Linked DNA regions of Homo sapiens: region 1 is linked to region 2. Evidence: fine-mapped expression QTL. A gene starts in region 2. The other region holds a variant in brackets. All regions are shown on one strand. Distances are from middle to middle. Region 1 overlaps LINC00570 (long intergenic non-protein coding RNA 570). Region 2 holds the start of LINC00570 (long intergenic non-protein coding RNA 570).

Region 1 (5,376 bases), 6.8 kb before region 2:
GGGGCATGGTGGCCGCACACCTGTAATCCTAGCTACTCGGGAGGCTGAGGCAGGATCACCTCTTGAACCCGGGAGCGGAGTTTGCAGTGAGCTGAGATGGTGCCATTGCACTACAGCCTGGGCAACAAGAGTGAAACTCCATCTCAAAAAAAAGAAATGAAGCAATTATAGTTTTTTTAAGTATATAATTTAATTTCCAAATGGAGCCTCCATTCTGCTAGGTGGCAGAAATTTTATGTCAGCTCATGGTTTCTTCAGCCAGTTCTGGATCCCAGCACAGCCCAACTCCTTGAAAACGTCTTCCAGGAGCTTTGTGTGTGTCCATGTGGCTTCCCAAGTACCCAGTCACCAGCTGCTTCTATCCATGGGTGCACACTGACATCTCTCAAGGCATCCTTCTTCCCATCTGGTCTCTTGTCATTGGATCAAATTAATGAGTGCCTGTCCCAACTATGTGATCTCTCTAGGTCCTATTCTCTTTCAACCCTCTAGGGAACTCAGGAAACATTGGGCTATTGTCCATAATGTGGTGATGGTGGTGGTGATGGTGGTGGTGGTGGCGGTGATGGCAGCGGCAGTGGTGATGGCGATGGCGGCAGCGGCGGTGGTGGTGGTGGTGTCACCCGAGGCTGCCTTGGTCCAGCCAGCACGCAGCCTTCTCTATTCATTCTCTCTTGTGTGGACCCGTGGGGGAATTCTATGAGTCTTGCCACTTCAGGGCTCCACTCAGAAGGCAAGGTGAAGTCTTCTTTGGAGCCAGATTCCCAAATGGATCTGGAGTCTCCATTACACACAACCCCCTAGGGGTTTGACCCAGAATCCTCCTCTCAGGGTCATGTGACAATATCTACCCAACCCTCTTGCTTCTTCTCTCCTCCCTCTTGACTCTTTTCCCACCCGCCTCCTGCCATTGACTCCAGCCTATAGAATCTTTAAACAATCACTGGCGTATTGAAAGAATGGCTCTGGGTAATTAGGCATATTTCTGTTTCCAAATCTACTGTTTATGCATAAGCTTTATTCTCCAAGGCTTGCAAGAATAGGATTTTAAAGTTGAAAGGCCTAGATTTTTGCAACCTAAAGCTTTTTCTTTAAAAAATATTTTTTTTTCTTATGTCTGACATGAGAAAATTAGGAGCTCAAAAATTGAGAGTCGCCATCTTGGTTGTCTGCCTTCTCTGGTGGCATCCCTTTCCTGGGGTAGTAAGCCTCAGCTGCCACCTGAAAAAGAAGGATCTCAAATTACAGGAACTACCCAATATGAAAACCATAGCAATAGTTAATGCAGAAATGGAATCATCACGAAGATAATGCAGCTTAAATTTCAGGCCTCCCTTGGAAGAGCTGCTTCCCCAACCTTGGGAGGACTCAAGCAATAGATTAACATGGTTTTTTTTGTTGTTATTGTTGTTTTGGGTTTTTTTTTTTTTTTTTTTTTTTTGAGACAGAGTCTCACTCTGTTTCCCAGGCTGGAGTGGAGTGGCACAATCTCGGCTCACTGCAAGCTCTGCCTCCCGGGTTCATGCCATTCTCCTGCCTCAGCCTCCTGAGTAGCTGGGACTACAGGCACCCACCACCACGCCCGGCTAATTTTTTGTATTTTTAGTAGAGACAGGGTTTCACCGTGTTAGCTAGGATGGTCTCGATCTCCTGACCTCGTGATCCGCCCGCCTGGGCCTCCCAAAGTACTGGGATTACAGGCGTGAGCCACCGTGCCCGGCGCAGCATGTTTTTAAAAAATATGCAAAAATCAAGATATAATATTTTAACAATTCCTGAAGCCCACATCTCCCACTCAGACTTCGTTTCCACCACACATCTGCTTGTATTGGGTGGTGATGCGGCTCTTTGGGGCTTTAGCCGAAGGGAAGTCGAACTGGGTCTACACAGTAACATCCTCAGCCTGGACTAGGGCAGTGCACACCCTCTACTTTCAGAAGCTCCTCTCTTGTCCTTCTCTAGCTGCATTTCTACCCTAAGGGCAAGGAGTCTACAGGGCCAAAGGGAGCTTCACCCTCTTCCAGGCTACTCCTCAGGTGCGGCAGCCATGGGAATCTGCCTCTCAGAGCTTCCTTGAAGAAGAGCATGAGGGACTGGGTGCAGTGTCTCACGCCTGTAATCCCAGCACTCTGGGAGGCTGAGGTGGGCAGATCATAAGGTCAAGAGATCGAGACCAGCCTGGCCAACATGGTGAAACCCCATCTCTACTAAAAATACAAAAATTACCTGGGCCTGGTGGTGCACACCTGCAGTCCCAGCTACTTGGGAGGCTGAGGCAGGAGAATCACTTGAAGCCGGGAGGCAGAGGTTGCAGTGAGTCGAGATTGCGCCACTGCACTCCAGCCTGGCAACAGAGAGAGACTCTGTCTCAAAAAAAAAAAAAAAAAAAAAAAAAAAAACCACAGGAAAAAAAAAAAGAAGAGCATGCTGTCAGCAGCAAGGGCTGCAGTTAGCTGAGACCTCCAGCTAGAACAGCATCAGGATCTGCCACACTGTCTGAGTCAAGGCCACACTTCCACCAGGCAGCCTTCAGCTAAAGAGGGACCACAGCAGGAATCCTAGTGGCTGGCCAGCTCTGCCAGTGGGAGAGCCTTCTCATGGGCAGTCTTTCACTATAGCTCCCTATTGGGTTGGACCAGGTTTCATCAGATGGCATCTCACTCTGAGCCTCTACCTGCTTACTCTGCTCCTTCTCTAGTTCCTTTCACAGGTTCAGATTGGCATTGGGATATGAAGTCTTTTTCTGCCCAATCCTGCTTCATCCTCCTATCACGTTAACAAGGCTTACCTCTTACTCAGTCTCCAGCACTCCTAACTGACTCCATTTCTTCTACCCAGAGGACCTGACCTGACACCATCGATGCTGGAAGTGGCCTGAGAAA[A/G]CAATAAAGAGAGGGCGTGGCACCTTGATCAGCTAGCATGAGGGCTCCATCCCAGGTGGTCTGGGAGGCACAGAGGGGTGCCTAGGATGACACAGCAACCCAATTGCTATGCTTTCAGTGATGCTGACTTGGGAAATTGCTCTGATGGGAAGACCCAGGTGGCGGATGCCCCTGATGACTTTGGTTCCCAAGACCCCTCTGAGCCCTCAGTGCTGGCAGGGATTGCCACTTCTCTCAAGAGTCAGCCCTTTCCCCACCCTGTAGAGGTCTCTCCCCTACACGATAGCAGGGCCCCCCTCAGGATCTGCCCCCATCTCCTTTCCTGGCTGCAAAGCCAATAAGTAGGATTAAATGGCAGCATAACCCAGCTGGGGACAGGCTAGGCTTGATAAGGGAGGAAAGCAAGAGCCCCCAAAGGTGCTGCAAGAGTGGACTGCCATAGACCAGTGGGCGCTAAGGGGGGTCCAGGCAGGGAGGGTGTTGATCAGGGTGGGGCTTAAGACCAGGTTTATTAGTTCATTCTCATACTTCTATAAAGAACTACCTGAGACTGGGTAATTTATAAAGAAAAGAGGTTTAATTGGCTCACGGTTCTGCAGGCTGAACAGGAAGCATAGCAGCTTCTTCTCAGCTTCTGGGGAGGCTCCAGAAAACTTACAATCTTGTGGTGGAGGAAGGGGACACGGGCACGTCTTACATGCCAGAGCAGGAGGAAGAGAGAGAGAGGGGGAGGAGGTGCTACACACTTTTAGACAACCAGATCTTGTGAGAACTCTATCATGAGAGCCGCACTGGGGAGACGGTGCTAACGCATTCATGAGAACCTGCCCCCATGATCCAATCGCCTCCCACCAGGCTCCTCCGCCAACATTGAGGATTACAGTTTGACATGAGATGTGGATGGAGACACAGATCCATACAGATCCAAACGGTATCATTCCACCCCGGCCGCTCCCAAATCTCATGTCCTTCTCACATTGCAAAATCCAATCATGCCTTCTCAACTGTTCCTTCCCCAAAGTCTTAACTCATTCCAGCATTAGCTCAAAAGTCCACAGTCCAAAGTCTCATCTGAGACAAGGCTAGTTAGTCCCTTCCACCTATGAACCTGTAAAATCAAAAACAATTAGTTACTTCCAACGTACCATGGGGGTACAGGCATTGGGTAAATACTCCCGTTCCAAAAGGGAGAAACCGGCCGAAAGAAAGGCTGCAGGCTCCACTCAAGTCTGAAACCCAGCAGGGTGCCATTACGTCTTAAAGCTCCAAAATAATCTCCTTGATTCCACGTCTCACATCCAGGGCACAGTGATGCAAGAGGTGGGCTCCCAAAGCCTTGGGCAGCTCTGCCTCTGGGGCTCTGCAGGGCTCAACCCCTGCGGCTGCTTATAGGCTGGCGTGGTGCCCTGAAGCAGGAGAGGCACATGGTAAGTGCTTAATCGCCGGGAGCCAGAAGGTCACACCCATTGTAACAACTGGCAAGGCTGGAGTGGCAGCCAACAGGGCTTGACTTCCAGAGTGAAGGAGATGTTGACAGAATACAGCAATGCTAGTGAGGGGCGGCCCATACGTGGACTGCTGTGTGTGTGTGTGTGTGTGTGTGTGTATTTACGTGTGTATATATAAACTGGACTGGAGTTAGCTTTTTGAAAAATATGACTTTTTAGTTTACTCAATGTCATTTTATTTATTTGTTTTTTTTGAGACGGGCTCTCACTACATTGCCCAGGTTGGTTTCGATCTCCTGGGCTCAAACGAGTCTCCCAACTCAGCCTGCCGAGTAGCTGGGATTACAGGCATGAGACACAGCCCCTGACTGGAGTCGGTTTCCAGAACGGAGAACTATTGACTGAAGAGGTGGCTGGGTACCCAGGAGAAAGAATCCTGTGACATGACAGTTTTTAAAGTAGAGATTTCAGATAAACAACAGGACCTATGACCATTTACTAGAGTGACTTTTTGCTGGGGAAAGAGGGTTGCTCAGCTATTTGAAGGACTATCTGAAGATCTGAATTGACATTGACATCCAGAGATCCGAAGACTCCTCCTAGCCCATCTCTTAGAGTAGGGCCGTGCAAAAAGCCAGGGAAGAAAGCGAGTGCTGGCTGAAGTCCAGCTGAGAGTGGGTCCACTGGCTCCGTGGATCCATCCTAAGGTCATTTTCTCAGTCCCTGAACGTATAATTGGCATTGGAAAAACTCGCACATTGGGTTTTTGGCCTGTAGAGTAAAAGCTGTCATACTGGGGAAAGCCAAGTGAAAACTCTTGATACTACTCCCACCCTGAACCTCAGCCAAGAGAGGAAAATACAAACAATATCGCATCCTGGGGGCTGCTAGAGATTAATGCCACCCTTATGGAACTCAAGGAGGCATGGCTGGAGGTCTCCCCCGTATTTCTATTTAGTTGACCAAACTGGCCCCTGCAGGAACCAGAGGGAACCCGGAGAACTGTGGACCACCACAAACCCAAATAGTAATAGCCCCAGTTACCA
Region 2 (5,376 bases):
AGACCAGGAGGTCTGGGGGAGAGGCAGTTCATGGATATATGGAAATTGACATAAAGAATGGTGATCTTTGCATTATATATCAACTACCTGAAAGCGTTAGTCACGAAAGGGGCACGAAATAGCCAAGTAGGCAAAATAGCTCAGCCACGGATGTCAGCTAGCATATGCCATGAGCTATGAACTGGCAGAAGCAGAGATGACATATGGGCCCAGCAGCATGAACTCCCACTTACTAAAGCCAATCTGGCTATTGTGCACCGTGGCAGTCAGGGAGGAGTGTGGCTCAGATCTCCCTTCCAGAAGGAACTTGCTGGTCAGCGGCAAGGAGAGTAGTTAGCTGGCAGCATCCAGCTGAAGCCCCTTCACAATTCACTACAGCCCCTCCTGGGCGGCCCGGCCAGCAGTGAGCATGCTGGGAGCTTTCTATGCCCAAAGCAGGACCCCTCTGATGGGCAGTCTGCACCAGAACTGCCCATCGGGTTGACCACATTGTAAATGATCTCCAGGACAGTGTGGGGCTCTCCCTGCCCATTTTTGCCCTCGACACATTTCAGATCAGCATTGTGATCTGAAGCCTTCCCCAACCAACCCTCCTCTGTCACTTTTTATCTTTCAAAAATGTCTCTCCTCAGGAACCCTCTTGCATCCCCAATTCCATTCCTGGATCTGCTTATCAGAAGACCTGGATTGATACTCCAGGCCCAGAGACCCTTGCCAACATCAGTCATGCTACCAGGGCCCGTCAGGACCGCTGCCCACGTCCTCCCAAAGGCCGGCTCACACTGGTGTGCAACCCCAGGCCTGAGGGGCTGCCAAAATGCTGTGTACACGGGAATGGTCGATCTTAGCCATGAGCCTGGGCTATCCACACACGTGCCACAGCCCTCAGGCTGCAAAGTGCTTCCTCCTGGAGAAGGAGAACCGGCAGCCAGCCAGGGGGCAGGGCCAGCTTTCCCCACACAACACATTCCCGATGGAACCCAGGATTCTGAGAATTCTAAATTTGAATCTGGCCTTTCAAATTGTCAGGGTAGAAGGATGGGACACAGTGTATTTAACGGTTTGTTAGCGTGATTGATGACTTTCAGGAATTTATTTTAAACATATGAAAAGGGGACCTCCTTTCTAGTCTCGTCCTGGGCTATGCATTTGTTAGGAGTAGGCCTGGCCTGGAGATTCATTTATTTGGGTAAATGGGATATACTGATGCATTTCAAAATCACTTTCATCAGCTTGTTGCTAGCCATCCTGGTGGAAGAGTGGTTTCTAGAAATCCTCCTGAGGCCTGTGGTGCCCACTCACCAGGCATCATGACAGAAAGTGCAGTGCTCAAAGTCACACTGAAACAAATGCATTCTGGCTGTAAAAGGATGGGTTTGTGGGGATGAAGCAAGGCAGGGCAAGGTTGAAGGAAATGCTTCCAATCATGAATATGTAATGGCAATTGCAAGCAGAGAATTTGCTTGTCATTGATACCTAGTTGAAGCCATCAATAATAAAAAACAAATTTTGACCAACTGTGCTAAGGAAAAGACTGAATTAACTTTATAATCTCTTTATAGAAACAGAAAATACTACCACAAAACCATTGCCATAGGAAGAAGCTACTAAAATGCATGCAGCCAAAAAATGTAGGAAAAAGGTATTAGAAGCATAGAAGACAATTAATAAAATGTAGTACATTATTTTTCTAGATTTTGTGATATTTGTAGTATTTGTTCAGTTTTTCTTTTTTCTTTTTTCTTGAGACAGGATCTCACTCTGTTACTCAGGCTGGAGCACAGTGGCGTGATCACAGCTCACTGCAGCCTCAACCTCTCAAGCTCAGGTGATCCTCGCACCTCAGCCTCCTGAGTAGCTGGGACTACAGGCGTGTGCTACCACGCCTGGCTAATTTTTGCATTTTTTATAGAGGTGGAGTTTCACCACGTTGCCCAGGCTGGTCTGGAATTCCTGGACTCAAGTGATCTGCCCGTCTCCACCTCCTGAAGTGTTGGGATTATAGGCATGAGCCACTGTGCCTGGCCCAGTTTTTCTTTTTAATTGTAATTTGTTGTGATTTTTTTCTCCTAAGTAAATATCCCCTTTTATATTTGATGTGTTTGTAAATTTGTATTCTTCTTTCTTAAAAAGGACCCTCCACACTGAATAAGCTTCAGGCCCCACAACACCCAGATCCACTCCTGAATGAATATTATTATTACTAGTCAAAGTATTATTTTATCACATCCATGAGGGAGATAGAATTGCCTCTGTTTTACAGAAAAGTAAAGGCCAGGAGATGAAGTTGCTTACTCATTCTGACTCTGAATGCTTTTCCCGCTAGATTCTGGAATCTTCAGGCTTCTTGGCGCTCAGCCTGTTCGTTGATCCCCCTGCTGCTTCTACCACCCAGATCCCAGCAGGGAAAGCCAGAGGGAGACTAAATAGGAAGAAGAAGCCTCTCTGAATAAGCTGAGAAGGTTCCATAACGTCCCACTCTTCCGCAGCCCGTGGTCAGGGAGCTGGGGTGGGGGTGGGAGTGGCCGCACAGAAACCAAAAACCAACTGGCCCAAACAACCAGCTTTTGCAGGAAGGCAGAACAGGCAGTTAGGGGCTCCGGATCCCAGGCCAGGACCCTCGGACCTCAGTTAACGGCTAGTGTAGCTGAAGCCTGACGTCACCAACAGAGACAAGGAGGAGAGTAGGGAAGGATTACATATCTGTGGTTCTGATTTCCTGAAATAGTCCAGCCCTGCATGAAAGGTCTCTGTGCAGAGTCGGAGTCTAATCCAAGTTCAGGATGGCCACTAAGGGCACCTGATTTATCACTTATCTTTAGCCATGGGCCATGAACATTCCTTTGCTAATCAAGGCTGTTAACAACCCCAAAAGCGTTGCGTCTTAGAGCAGAAAGAATCCCAAGATCACTGAATCCAGGGATTCTTAGGTCCACCCTGAAGAAACAGAGAATCAATGAGTGACACTTCCAAAAGCTCAATGCATGCAATTTAAACTATCATTTTGGCCAAGATATATATTTTTCTGTTGTTAAAATGTCTTCAGTGAAATGATGGAAATAATGGTGGTGATATTTGCTAGTATTTATTGAGTGTTGCCATGTTCTGGGCATTGTGTTAAAAAGCCTTGCACAGTGTATCTCAATCACCATAAGAACCTTAAGAGAAAGACACAATTTTGGTTTTTTTTGAGACAGAGTCTCTGTCACCCAGGCTGAAGTGCAGTTGCGGGATCTTGGCTCACTGCAACCTCCGCCTCCTGGGTTCAAGTGATTCTCCTGCCTCAGCCTCCCAAGTAGCTGGGACTACAGGCACACACCACCATGCCCGGCTAATTTGTTTATTTATTTATTTATTTATTTTCTGGAATGGAGTCTTGCTCTGTCACCCAGGCTGGAGTGCAGTGGCGTGATCTTGGCTCACTGCAGCCTCCGCCTCTCGGGTTTAAGTGATTCTCCTGCCTCAGCCTCCTGTGTAGCTGGGATTACAGGAACCCACCAGCACACCCAGCTAATTTTTGTATTTTTTGGTAGAGACAGGGTTTCGCCATGTTGGCCAGGCTGGTCTCGAACTCCTGACCTCGTGATCTGCCCACCTCAGCCTCCCAAAGTGCTGGGATTACAGGCATGAGCCACTGCGCCTGGCCTAATTATTAACCCACTTTTTCTTCTGAATAAACTAAGGCTAGGGGAGATCAAACTGGTACAAGTCACACAGCAGCATGTCACAGAGTTGGGACCTGAACTCGGCAGGTCTGATTTCCTTGTGCCCGCTCTTAACTGTCACATCGCCCTGCCTCTGTAGATTAAATGCAGTTTTCAATTCTGACATCCTGATCTCCCCAAGTAAAAGTGTGGTGGCCGGGTGTTGCAGCTCATGCCTGTAATCCCAGCATTTTGGGAGGTTGAGGCAGGCAGATGGCTTGAGCTCAGGAGTTCGAGACCAGCCTGGGCAACAGTCTGTGAATCCCTGTCTCTACAAAAAATACAAAAATTAGTTGGGCATAGTGGCATGTGCCTATAGTCCCAGCTCCTCAGGAGGCTGAGGTGAGAGGATGGCTTGAACCTCAGAGGCGGAGGCTGCAGTGAGCCAAGAATGTGCCACTGCACTCCAGCCTGGGTGACAGAGCAAGACTCTGTCTTAAAAAAATAGAAATTTAAAAAGTGTGGCAACCCTGGGTTGGAACCTTGTGTTTTCTTAAAGAACTTATCCTGGCCTAGAAGTCTGGAGGCCTGAATGCCATTGGTGTAACTTGTCAGATTCATCTGACACTTGCTTGGGGAGATGTACTTGAGTTACCCAATGTCATCCAGCAAGTTGGAAGCAAAATTAGACAGGGAAAAGACCTGGCCGAGTAGAATTTCAGCATCTGTGAGATATGAAAATTTGGGAATTTCCTTTGGTTTGGACAATGGCTGACTACAGGAAAGGCAACCTCTAGAAATAAATTCAGAAAACAATTCTTTCAACCTATGTTTCCCCAGGGACATCCCGGCTTCGACAATGTACTTCTGTGCAGCTCCAGGAATGCCTCTGCATTCCTCAGCAGAGTGGGAATTTCCAGTCCTGGTTCCTGGAGGCGCGTTCTCACCTCTCCCTGCTGTACTGCCTCCCACTCAGGAACTTCTTTCCCGTTGGCTGTCTCCATGGTGAAACCAAGGGAAAGAGAGAGTTTAGATGGTTGCCATGGCAACAACAAAGGCGCTGTGGTTTCCTTGGTGATACCGGGAAGGTAGAGGCGGCAGGGCTCCAGGGATCTGTTCCCCACACCAGTTACCCTGCCTAGCTCACATCCTGGGCTGCCTGGATTAGGACCATGCATGACAATAATAGCAAAACCTTCCAGATGACAGACACTCTCAGGGCCAGTGAGGCAGTGCTCTGTTCGGACTGTGGGTCCAGGCACACTCGGTCTGGGGCATGTTATTTCACCCTTCAGGCTCTGTTGCCTCATCTGTAAAATGGGGCTAATCATAGGATCAACTCGTTAGGGTTATGAGGAAAGGAAATGTGAAGTGCTTAGCTTGTGGTGAGTGGGAGTCAATTTGAACCATGATGATTACATGGTAACTATTGCTATTACAGACTAATAACCCGTGTCAGTACAGTGCAGAGAGGGAGGCAAGGCAGGTTAATAAAGCCATCTTGGGCCAGGCGTGGTGGCTCACACCTGTAATCCCAGCACTTTGGGAGGCCGAGGCGGATGGATCGCCTGAGGTCGGGAGTTCGAGACCAGCCTGGCCAACATGGCAAAACCCTGTCTCTACTAAAAATACAAAAATTAGGCGGGCGTAGTGGCAGGCGCCTATTATGCCAGCTACTCGGGAGGCTGAGGCAGGAGAATCACTTGAACCCCGGAGGCGGAGGTTGCAGTGA

What was found.
Region 1: its variant is fine-mapped to the expression of LINC00570 in testis (GTEx, PIP above 0.99).

What each region holds. Positions count from the first base shown.
Region 1 is chr2:11,397,870-11,403,245 of GRCh38, reverse strand. It overlaps LINC00570 (long intergenic non-protein coding RNA 570), which reads right to left. Exons shown (of 3, transcript NR_047499.1): 2 at 2,789-2,874; 3 at 169-1,221. Among named protein-coding and RNA genes, the nearest start is that of LINC00570, 6.6 kb to the right of the region's middle. The variant A/G (reference allele first, on the strand shown) is at 2,883.
Region 2 is chr2:11,391,091-11,396,466 of GRCh38, reverse strand. LINC00570 (long intergenic non-protein coding RNA 570) reads right to left here and starts at 2,486. Exons shown (of 3, transcript NR_047499.1): 1 at 2,296-2,486.